Linked DNA regions of Homo sapiens: region 1 is linked to region 2. The links come from fine-mapping of genetic effects on gene expression. A gene starts in region 2. The other region holds a variant in brackets. All regions are shown on one strand. Distances are from middle to middle. Region 1 overlaps CACNA1I (calcium voltage-gated channel subunit alpha1 I). Region 2 holds the start of CACNA1I (calcium voltage-gated channel subunit alpha1 I).

Evidence for each region. PIP is the estimated chance that this variant, and not a neighbour inherited with it, causes the effect.
Region 1: its variant is fine-mapped to the expression of CACNA1I in whole blood (TOPMed, PIP 0.98).

What each region holds. Positions count from the first base shown.
Region 1 is chr22:39,659,246-39,664,465 of GRCh38, forward strand. CACNA1I (calcium voltage-gated channel subunit alpha1 I) reads left to right here. Exons shown (of 37, transcript NM_021096.4): 13 at 188-305; 14 at 452-607; 15 at 1,099-1,192; 16 at 1,863-2,065; 17 at 2,720-3,190; 18 at 3,531-3,631; 19 at 4,473-4,596; 20 at 4,846-4,914. Among named protein-coding and RNA genes, the nearest start is that of CACNA1I, 91 kb to the left of the region's middle. RefSeq lists a silencer at 3,213-3,332 and an enhancer at 4,543-5,072. The variant A/T (reference allele first, on the strand shown) is at 3,143.
Region 2 is chr22:39,567,967-39,573,186 of GRCh38, forward strand. CACNA1I (calcium voltage-gated channel subunit alpha1 I) reads left to right here and starts at 2,787. Exons shown (of 37, transcript NM_021096.4): 1 at 2,787-3,022. The coding sequence starts at 2,787.

The sequences.
Region 1 (5,220 bases), 91 kb after region 2:
CCTCAGTCCCCTGTGGCTTTCAGCAAGCATGAACCCCTAAGCCTCAGTGTTCATCTCTGTAAAATGGGACCAACGCTGCCCCGCCTCCCCCTGCCCTGCATTTTACTGAGTTGACTGAGAATGAAACAAGGTGAGTAGGCAGTTTGGTGCATGTGAGTCCGATGAGCCTCTTCCATCCTTTCCCCAGCATCCTTGGGATGCATATTTTTGGCTGCAAGTTCAGCCTCCGCACGGACACTGGAGACACGGTGCCCGACAGGAAGAACTTCGACTCCCTGCTGTGGGCCATCGTCACTGTGTTCCAGGTGAGTGGCCGCTGCGTGTTCATGTTTGCTGGGGAAGCGATGGGACAGTAGGCCTGGGAGGGGCGGGGCTGACAACTCCCATGCCTCCTTGTAGAGCCTAGCCCTGGACTAGGGGTACCCCAGGGCTAACTGTGTCTCCCCAACAGATCCTCACCCAGGAGGACTGGAACGTCGTTCTCTACAATGGCATGGCCTCCACTTCTCCCTGGGCCTCCCTCTACTTTGTCGCCCTCATGACCTTCGGCAACTATGTGCTCTTCAACCTGCTGGTGGCCATCCTGGTGGAGGGCTTCCAGGCGGAGGTGACTGTGGTCTTGGCAGAGGAAGCACCCCCACAGGGTCTGCGAAAGACTGGGCGAGGGAGAGGTGGCCTGGATGGGGGAGGGCTGCAATTCAAACTTCTAGCAGGCAACCTATCCCTAAAGGAGGGGGTTGCTGATGAGGTGGTGAGCTCTTCATCATAGGAAGCATGCAAATGGAGACTGCGTCTGCCATCCCTGCTCCCCCCCAGGGATGTAGGACTAGGCTTCTCCATCTCTGAGATTCGAAATCCCCCAAGATTAGGGACTCTGGGCCCTGCTCCCTCCGTTCTCTGAGGCTCTGGGGATACTTGCAGTCAGGCAGATGTAGGGTTGTGACCTAGGTTCTTGTTAGCATCTCATTTCCCTTTTCCAAACCTCAGTTTTCCCATTTGCAAAATGGCGGTGGAAACACCCATAGAAAAATTCTAGAGGGAGCTGGGAAGGGAGGAGCTGGACTGACCTGCATTCTAACGTGACGGATGCTCTCCCAGGGTGACGCCAATCGCTCCTACTCGGACGAGGACCAGAGCTCATCCAACATAGAAGAGTTTGATAAGCTCCAGGAAGGCCTGGACAGCAGCGGAGGTAAACAGGCCCTCGCTTGTCACCTAGAGAGCCCAGAGCCTTCTCCACAGATCCAGGTGGGCAGAGGGTACAGCGTCTGACTCCACCTCAAGCCCAGGCTCAGGGACTGCTACTTATCTATGGTTTGTTGTTTACGTTCATAATTGGAAAAAATGTGAAATCTCAAAAAGAGGTCAGTGACATCCATGGACCCCTGGGATTCTAGGCACAGGGGTAGCCGCAGCCCACCACATCCCTCCACATACCAGGGCCCCTTGGTTAGAGCCTTGGGGCCTTAGGTCAAGGTGTAGGTTCTGGTCCTGCCTGGCACTACTGGGCATCTTGGAACAAGCATCCTCCAACCCTAGCCCAGTGTCTTTCTCGGTAACTGGGGCGGACAGTCCCTGCCTTGTTTCCCATAGTGGGCATGGGAGTGAGGTGTCAGGCTGGTTCTGAGCACAGAAGGCAAGGGGTCCACACATACCTAAATAAAGCTAAGAGCCCTGCAGGTGGGGCGAAGGGGAGGCACTGTGATGGGGTGCAACCAGGAAGACTTCCTGGTAGAGGAAGCCTCCTTAGAAAAGCTCTCCATTTCTGCTCCTTCCTTGTTTGTCTGTCTCGTGGCTCCCTTGCTGTTGTTCTGTCCTGTCTGCCATCTGTCCCTCCCTCTGTCTCCATCTCACTCCTCCAGATCCCAAGCTCTGCCCAATCCCCATGACCCCCAATGGGCACCTGGACCCCAGTCTCCCACTGGGTGGGCACCTAGGTCCTGCTGGGGCTGCGGGACCTGCCCCCCGACTCTCACTGCAGCCGGACCCCATGCTGGTGGCCCTGGGCTCCCGAAAGAGCAGTGTCATGTCTCTAGGGAGGATGAGCTATGACCAGCGCTCCCTGGTGAGTCCTTGTGGGGAGCTCTGGACGGGCGCTTCCTGCTGGGGTGTGTGTGGAGGGGCCCTGAAGAGAGGTACCTGCCAGTCTAGCCTCAGACTCTGGTGCCCAGCCAAAGTCAGGCAGGGGCCATGTCTGTTGCATTCCTGGGTGCCCAGTGCCAGAGTGGGACCTGGCAATAAGGAACGAATGAAGGCCTAGTGCCAGTGGGGTCTGGTGCAGAGAATTGGATTTTCATCTCAGCAACAATGTGTAGGGTAAAAAGAGCTGGGCTTTGGAGTCAGGCAGACTGCAGCTTGAATCCACCTTCTGCCACTTCCAAGCTGTGTGACCAGGAGCAAATTACTGCCCTTCTCTGAGCCTCAGTTTCCTTACCTGCAAAATGGGAAGATGGCCCTAACTTGCTGTACCTTCCTCAAGGGAAGTGAGGTGGCAGGAGGGGATGTAACCTCCGGGTGGATGTGCCCCCATGTCCCTGTGGATGTGGATGGAGTGAGGTGGGACAGGGAGAGGAGCTCTAGGGTCAAGCCCATTCCATCACCCGCTGGCCAGGTGGGTGGTCTTAGAGCCACAGCGGGGGTGCAGGCTGCCTTTGGGCACCTGGTGCCCCAGCCGTGGGTGTGCCTGTGGGGCGCTGACCCGAACGGGAACTCCTTCCAGTCCAGCTCCCGGAGCTCCTACTACGGGCCATGGGGCCGCAGCGCGGCCTGGGCCAGCCGTCGCTCCAGCTGGAACAGCCTCAAGCACAAGCCGCCGTCGGCGGAGCATGAGTCCCTGCTCTCTGCGGAGCGCGGCGGCGGCGCCCGGGTCTGCGAGGTTGCCGCGGACGAGGGGCCGCCGCGGGCCGCACCCCTGCACACCCCACACGCCCACCACATTCATCACGGGCCCCATCTGGCGCACCGCCACCGCCACCACCGCCGGACGCTGTCCCTCGACAACAGGGACTCGGTGGACCTGGCCGAGCTGGTGCCCGCGGTGGGCGCCCACCCCCGGGCCGCCTGGAGGGCGGCAGGCCCGGCCCCCGGGCATGAGGACTGCAATGGCAGGATGCCCAGCATCGCCAAAGACGTCTTCACCAAG[A/T]TGGGCGACCGCGGGGATCGCGGGGAGGATGAGGAGGAAATCGACTACGTGAGTGGGGGCGGGGCCGAAGGGGACCTGGTGCGGTGGGATAGGACAGAAGTGGGTGCGGCCCCAGGAGGCGGGGCCCGAGCGGGCGGGCCCACGGGGGGCGTGGCCGGGGCGTGGCCGGAGCGGCTAGGGCTTCAGGTGTGAGGCAGGAGGGGTGGGGCCAGAACTGCCCACACCTGAGCTGGGCCGGCTCCTGGGAGAGAAGCCCTCCCTGGCTGCCCCCGGGGGGCAGAGAGTTCGGAGGTGACCCTGCGACCCCAGTTGGCGCGATGGCCGCATGGGCGGAGACCGGCAACCCTGCGCATCGCTGACCCCCGGCGCTCCGTCCTCCTCTTGCTAGACCCTGTGCTTCCGCGTCCGCAAGATGATCGACGTCTATAAGCCCGACTGGTGCGAGGTCCGCGAAGACTGGTCTGTCTACCTCTTCTCTCCCGAGAACAGGTGGGCAGGGCCAGGCCTGGGGTGAGGGTTAGAGTAGGGGTAACGTGGGAGGGACGGATCTCTGCCAAGCCAGGCAAGGCCATTGGTGGCGCTCTCCCAGACCACAGCGGACCCTCCCGGCCCAGAGGTGGGGGTCTCCAGGGGAGAGTGCAGCCTCCTGAGGGCTGCTGGGTGAAGATGGATTTGGGGAGTGGGATTGGCTGGAGGAGGTCAGGGAAGAGTCTCAGCCTTGGCTTCCAAGATCCCTGGGGATCAGGGTTCCCTCTGGGGCTAGGCGAGGACTTTAGGCAAGACGGATGTTGGTGGCCAGGCTCTCCTGGGCTCTCCTCTAGTCTAGGCCATCCCTGTGCTGGGCACCAGGTTGAACCATTCTCAAGTAGCCTGTATGGCTTGCATCTGAGGGGACATCAGAAGGCTTCCTGGAGGAGGAGGCCTTTGTGCTGGGCTCTGGAGGCAGGTGGCATTCCAGTAGGCACATCAGGGGCTGTGAAGAGGAGGAGCCTGGTGCAGGGGCAGGGAGCAGCCTGAGGGAAGGCCTGGGGCAGAAGCAGAGGGTACTAGGCAGCGTGGTATCCTCCTGACAGGCTCAGGGATCTGGGCTGGGTAAGCCTCGAGTGCCAGGGAAAGGTGGGTGACCTCGTGGTGTGGGTGTATGGTCAGAGGAGGCAGCGCCAGGTGGGCACCCTGAGCAGGTGTAGAGTCGGCACCTGGCCAGAGGAGAGGATAGGGGTTGCTTCCTCGAGGCCAGCGTGGTCTGCACTGCTGCCTGGGCCCTCTGCCTTCCTTCTGGCCAGGGTGGGAGGCAGCTGACGCTCAGGCAGCCCCCGCCCACCCTGCCCAGGTTCCGGGTCCTGTGTCAGACCATTATTGCCCACAAACTCTTCGACTACGTCGTCCTGGCCTTCATCTTTCTCAACTGCATCACCATCGCCCTGGAGCGGCCTCAGATCGAGGCCGGCAGCACCGTGAGTGGCTGTAGCCTTTGGGCAGGGCAGGCGCCAGGCCAAGGGACAGCTCGCCAGGGCTGAGCAGGGCAGGGAGACCTCACCGAGGTGGGGAGGCAGGACAGGAAGTTTGCCTTTGGGGCGGGGAAAGCCTCCGTGAACTGAGAGGTGGCAGCCTCTCCTCTACGAACCTTGGCCAAAGCAGCGGCTGGCCAGTGGCCGGGCAGCTCTGGGAGCCCCTGAGCCTATGGTATCTCCCGATGCTTTCAGGAACGCATCTTTCTCACCGTGTCCAACTACATCTTCACGGCCATCTTCGTGGGCGAGATGACATTGAAGGTAGCTCCCGGTTTCACCCGGGACCCCTGCTAGCCCCAGCTCGGGCCCCTGGCCCTGGGTCAGCCCCTGCCTCAGCTTGTCACTCGCCTGCCATCGGCTTCATTTCACTCGTAGCCCCATGGCCCACCCCTCTGGGTGCCAGCCCCGGGGCTGGGCTCCCGCGACCCAGAGGGGGTCAGCCCCGTCCCCATTCACAGGAGTCACAAACCCACCAGACAGATGGGTGCAGGGAACACTGAGTGTGATGGAGGCACCTGCTAGAGGTGTGGGGCGCAGGGGAAGCATCCCGTCTGGGGCGCTTCCCAG
Region 2 (5,220 bases):
TTCCTTAAATGCACCGAGCGGGCCCCATTCTCCTGGCCTTCGCACGTGCTCTTCCTCCTGTGCTCTTCCAGCAGATCAGTCAGGGCTGCGGCCTCCCGCGTCTTGGTTTTCACTTAAACATCTCTTCCTTTAGAGAGGGCAAGATGATTGTCTCCACTCCCACCTTTCCCCTTGTTTATTTACTTCCCAGCACTTTTTATTCACTGAGTCAACAAATATCGATTGAGCACCTAGTATGCTCCAGGCACCATTCCAGGTGCTGGGGATACAGCAGTGAGGGGATACACCTCCCTTACAGGCTTCTCTTAGGCTGGGGAGACAGACACCAAATCATGGAGATATAAAGACATAAATTATGCACCGTGTTTGATGGTGATAAGAGTTGTGGAAAAGCAGAAAGAGAGAAATTAATTGATCGGTGTGTCTCTCTCCTCTGCGGAAGTGTGGGCTGAATGGGGGCTGGTGCTGAGTCTGGCTCGTGCCCCAGCATAGCCCGAAGCCCACACAGTGCCCACACATAGTAGGTGCTCATTGGGCAAATGAATGAATCAGTAGGGCCTGGGAGAACAGGGCCTGGGCGGAAGGAGAAGGTGCCCCAGTGAGAGGGAAGAGCGGGAGCAGGGCCTAGGACCTGAGGAGGTCCAATCTGGCCAGAGCAAATGGCCAGGGGAGGGAGTGGTGGGCTCCGAGGCTGGCACGGTGGTGGGCAGAGCTGGAACCACCCTAGGGAGGGTGCGTTTCAGCCCAGGAGGTTGACACGTGGCAGGCCAAGGTGCCTGGGAGCTTATGTAAGGCCCGTGGCTGTTTTTCTGGAATCAAGAGCAAAGCCCTGAGCTCAGGAGAAAACTCCGCCTCCCTGACCAGCCAGGGGAAGTGGCAGGAGGTGCCAACCCCTGCCCGTTGCCCCCGGGAGCCAGAGAAATGTCCAAATGCATCAGCTCCGGGTGGCTTGGTCGACAGCCCAGCAGCAGCTGGGTGGGCACCAGGGACGTGGACCCCATCTCTCAATCCCACGGCTCAGACTGGCCCTGTAGGGGTTCTAGGATCCCAGGGACCCCAGTGGACAAAGTTTTAGGGACTAGTACCCTTTGGGGTGAGGTGGTGAGGGGCAGGCCCTGGGAGTGGCTGTCCGTCCCATCTTGCCATTGACTGGTTGCGGAGGCTCTCGGCCAGCGAGGGCACCATCAGTTGTCATGAAGCCCGCCTGGGGGTCTGGTGCTGGGATTCTGGCCTCTCAACACCACCTAGTGCTTCACTTGGCTGGGTGCATAGCCTTGACAACCCGCTTTGTTCTCTTGGCCTCAGTTTCTTCACCTGCCAAATGGGCATAATAGTCCTCCTGAGGTTGTTGTGAGCATCAGACAAGGCCAGGGAGTAGAAGTGCTTTGAGTTGGAGTCGGAGCCAGCAAGATGATTTGCATCACCTAGAACAAAATGAAAATGTGGGACCTCTTGATAAGCAATTAAGAATTTCATGTTGGTGACAGAAGAATTCTAAAGCAAGTTCAGGGCCCTTCTGAGCACGGGGCCCTGTGCAGCTGCCTGAGCCACAGACCCAGGAAGCGGGCTCTGACCGGAATTCTTTTTTTTTTTTTTTTTTGGTGACAGAGTCTTGCTCTGTTGCCCAGGCTGGAATGCAGTGGTGTGATCTTGGCTCACTGCAACCTCCACCTCCCGGGTTCAAGTGATTCTCATGCCTCAGCTTCCCGAGTAGCTGAGATTACAGCGTGTGCCACCACACCCAGCTAATTTTTGTATTTTTAGTACAGATGAGGTCTCACTATGTTGGCCAGGTTGGCCTCAAACTCCTGACCTCAGGTGATCCACCCACCTTGGCCTCCCAAAGTGCTGGGATTACAGGTGTGAGTCACGTGCCTGGCCTTTGACTGGAATTCTATTTCTGCTGTTACTCTGCTACATGTCTGTCCTGTCCCTTCTCTGGGCCTCGGTTTCTTCATCTGTAAGGCAAGGAGGTTAGACTCTAAGATTCCTGGGTTCTCAGCCTTGTAAGGCAGTGGCTGGGAGGTCCCTGGGTCAAGGGCTCAGCTGTAGGTCTCAGCTCAGGGGTTACTTCCTCAGGGAAGCCAACTGTGATTCCCTCCTGGCTTGCCAGCGTTCCCCCAGTCTCTGATTCTGCAGCACCCCAACATTGCCTTTGTAACCTGCATTGTCCTGGCAATAATGTCTGTCTTTACAATCACCTCTTTTTTCTTGCAAGTTTTCTTTACCTTTGATGGTGCAATAAATACATAGCTCTAGTCTTGTAAAAAAGTTAAGATCCCTTCCTTCCTTCCTTCCTTCCTTCCTTCCTTCCTTCCTTTCTTCCCTCCCTCCCTCCCTCTCTCCCTCTCTCCCTCCCTTCCGTCTTTCTTTTCTGTCTATAATTACTTAAACATTTTTTCTCTTAAATAATGAAAGATTTCAAATACAGAAAATTGCCAATAGACAAAAAAAAAAGAGTTAATATCACAATTATATTCTAAGAAGGCTTTATTCTCCCCACTATCTTCGTTTGCCAAAACTGAGGCTCAGCCAGGGTGAGCAGACTTGCCCCATGATCACCCAGCTTGGAAGCAGATTCCAAGTTGGGTGCAGCTGGGCCCTCAGCTGTTTCGTAATCCTCATGCAAGAGTGAGGGTGAGGGGCCTGTGGGGCTCAGGTGGGGCTGTCAGAGCTGCATCCGTCCACTTATTGGTGGAGAGGCAGGTTGGGGAGCATGTACCAGGCCTGTCCCCACCACGTGCCACCCTCTCTGTCTTCCCCAGGGCTCCCAGCTCAGTGTGGACATGGCTGAGAGCGCCTCCCCGCCCTCCTCATCTGCAGCAGCCCCAGCCGCTGAGCCAGGAGTCACCACGGAGCAGCCCGGACCCCGGAGCCCCCCATCCTCCCCGCCAGGCCTGGAGGAGCCTCTGGATGGAGCTGATCCTCATGTCCCACACCCAGACCTGGCGCCTATTGCCTTCTTCTGCCTGCGACAGACCACCAGCCCCCGGAACTGGTGCATCAAGATGGTGTGCAACCCATATCCTCCGCAGCCTCGGCTGATCGGGGCCCTGCAGGGGCTGAAGGGTGGGGGGCTGGATTGAGTCCTGCTGCTCACACCTTGCTCCGGCTGGGAGACCTGAGGTCTGCGGTGAGGCCACTGGGCCTTGGTGGTGGTGAGCGAGCTCAGAGGGTGGGTCTGGGGAGACCTCAAATGGATGAGGACCTGGTGTTCTGCTGATGTGAAGGTTCTGGAAGTTGCTGGTGGCTGTGGGGTCAGTCCAGTGGCTGGCTGGCTCAGAAAGTCCTTGAGTGTGGGCCCCAGACCTGTGCTGGGCTGGGAATGCAGATCAGTCAGACTCTGGAGCCACCTGATGGGCCGTGACCATACAGAGGATGGGAGCCGTGATCAGGAACTGTGGGCGTGGGCAGCGGGGCAGCCGATCCCAACACACAGGGCAGGACTCATTCTCCTTACTGTGCCTCCGAGCAGCCTCTTCCCAGGCCTCCTGCCTCCACTTGCTGCCTCCAGTGGGCTCATGTTCCCCCTGCTTAAGACTGTCATGATTTGCTATGGTCCTGGAGGTGCAGAGCAAAGTCCTAATCCAACCCATCAGGGCCTGTGTGTTCCACCCAGCCTCACTTCCCACCACTTGGCTTCCCCCCTGTGCTCTTCTGAGCCTCAGGGTCCTCTCACTGGCTCTTCCCCCTGTCTGAAAAGCTTTTCCCTTCCCCCTGGACCTGGCCAAATCCTTTGCTACATCCTTAAAATCCCAGCTTAAGCATCACCTCCTCAGGGAAGCCCTCTGGGATTCCTCCTCTGCTTCATATCTAACTGTCACATCTAACTGTGGAATTCTGAATCTAACATTTGCCTCCCCTGGGGTACTGTCAGATGACTGGGATGGGGACCCTAGCACCTGGCACAGTGCTTGGCACATCGTGGGTGCTCTGGCAGTGTTTGCTGGGTGTACATGGGCAATGCCAGAGCTGACTCCTCAATAAGGAAGAGCGTTGGTTGGGTAGAGAGGGTAGTGGGAGGCAGGAGGAGGGCATGGCAGGAGCGAAGCCTGGAGAAGGGAGGAGTTGCAGGCAGTGTTGGAGCCCTGAGGGGCAGAGAGGAGTGAGGTGAGGCTGCAGGTGTGGCGGGAGCCCTGCAGGGCCTTGGAGGCTGCATGAGGGATGGGACTGTGCTCCAAGGGCAGGATTTGAAGCAGGGTCTGGAGAGATCTGTGCTCTGGAAGGACTGTGTGGCACTGGCTTGCAGGGTGAAGTGGGGGCTGGGGACCACTGAGGAGGAGGCTTGGGGACCCAAGCCATGGTGGCCTTGTGGTTTGAGGGTCCCACCAAAAAATGCCCATATGTGGCTCGAGGTTCTGGTGCTTGTGGCCACACAGGGCAGGGTGCGGGGAGCTGGTGGGTCAGGTGCAGGCCTGAGTCCTGCCCTGGAATCCAGGGATGCCAGATGCAGGCTGGGATGTTGAGACTGGCTGCAGGACTGCCAGGCTTCCCTTCTGTAGGGGGCTGAGGTGATCGTGGGCCCTGGATCCCCCTAACTTTTGGAAACCAGCGGGTCTCTGCTGGAGTGGGATGCAGAACTGGGTGTTCCTTGCTGGGTGGGGGCTAAGAGCCTCCCTGCTCCTTCTGGGGGACGGCTCACAGCGTCTCAGGCTTGGTGAGAGGGTCTGCTCGGTAATTAGTTCACCCAGCACTCACTGACATCTGCCCTGGGACACTGAGGACAAAGAGGCAGAGCTGGTGTCTGTCCCAGGGAGTGCCCGGGGAAGAGGGAAGCAGGGACCACCCATTTGGCTAGTTTTTTTTTTTAGATGGAGTCTCGCTCTGTCACCCAGGCTGGAGTGCAGTGGCGCGATCTCGGCTCACTGCAACCTCCGCCTCCCAGGTTCAAGCAATTCTCCTGCCTCAGCCTCCCGAGTAGCTGGGACTACAGGCACCCACCGCCATGCCCTACTAATTTTTGTATTTTTAGTAGAGATGGGGTTTCACCATGTTGGTCAGGCTGGTCTCGAACTCCTGACTCGTGAACCGCCTGCCTCGGCCTCCCAAAGTGCTGGGATTACAGGTGTGAGCCACTGTGCCCAGCCTACGTGGCTAGTTTTAATACAAAGCACTGGGGAAACCTCAGGGGCTTGTGGCATGTGAACAGAGGAGTGCCAGGCCTGAGAAGGGGGCGGCCGCAGGAATTTTGGGCCTTTAGGAAGAGAAAGGCTGGTAGGA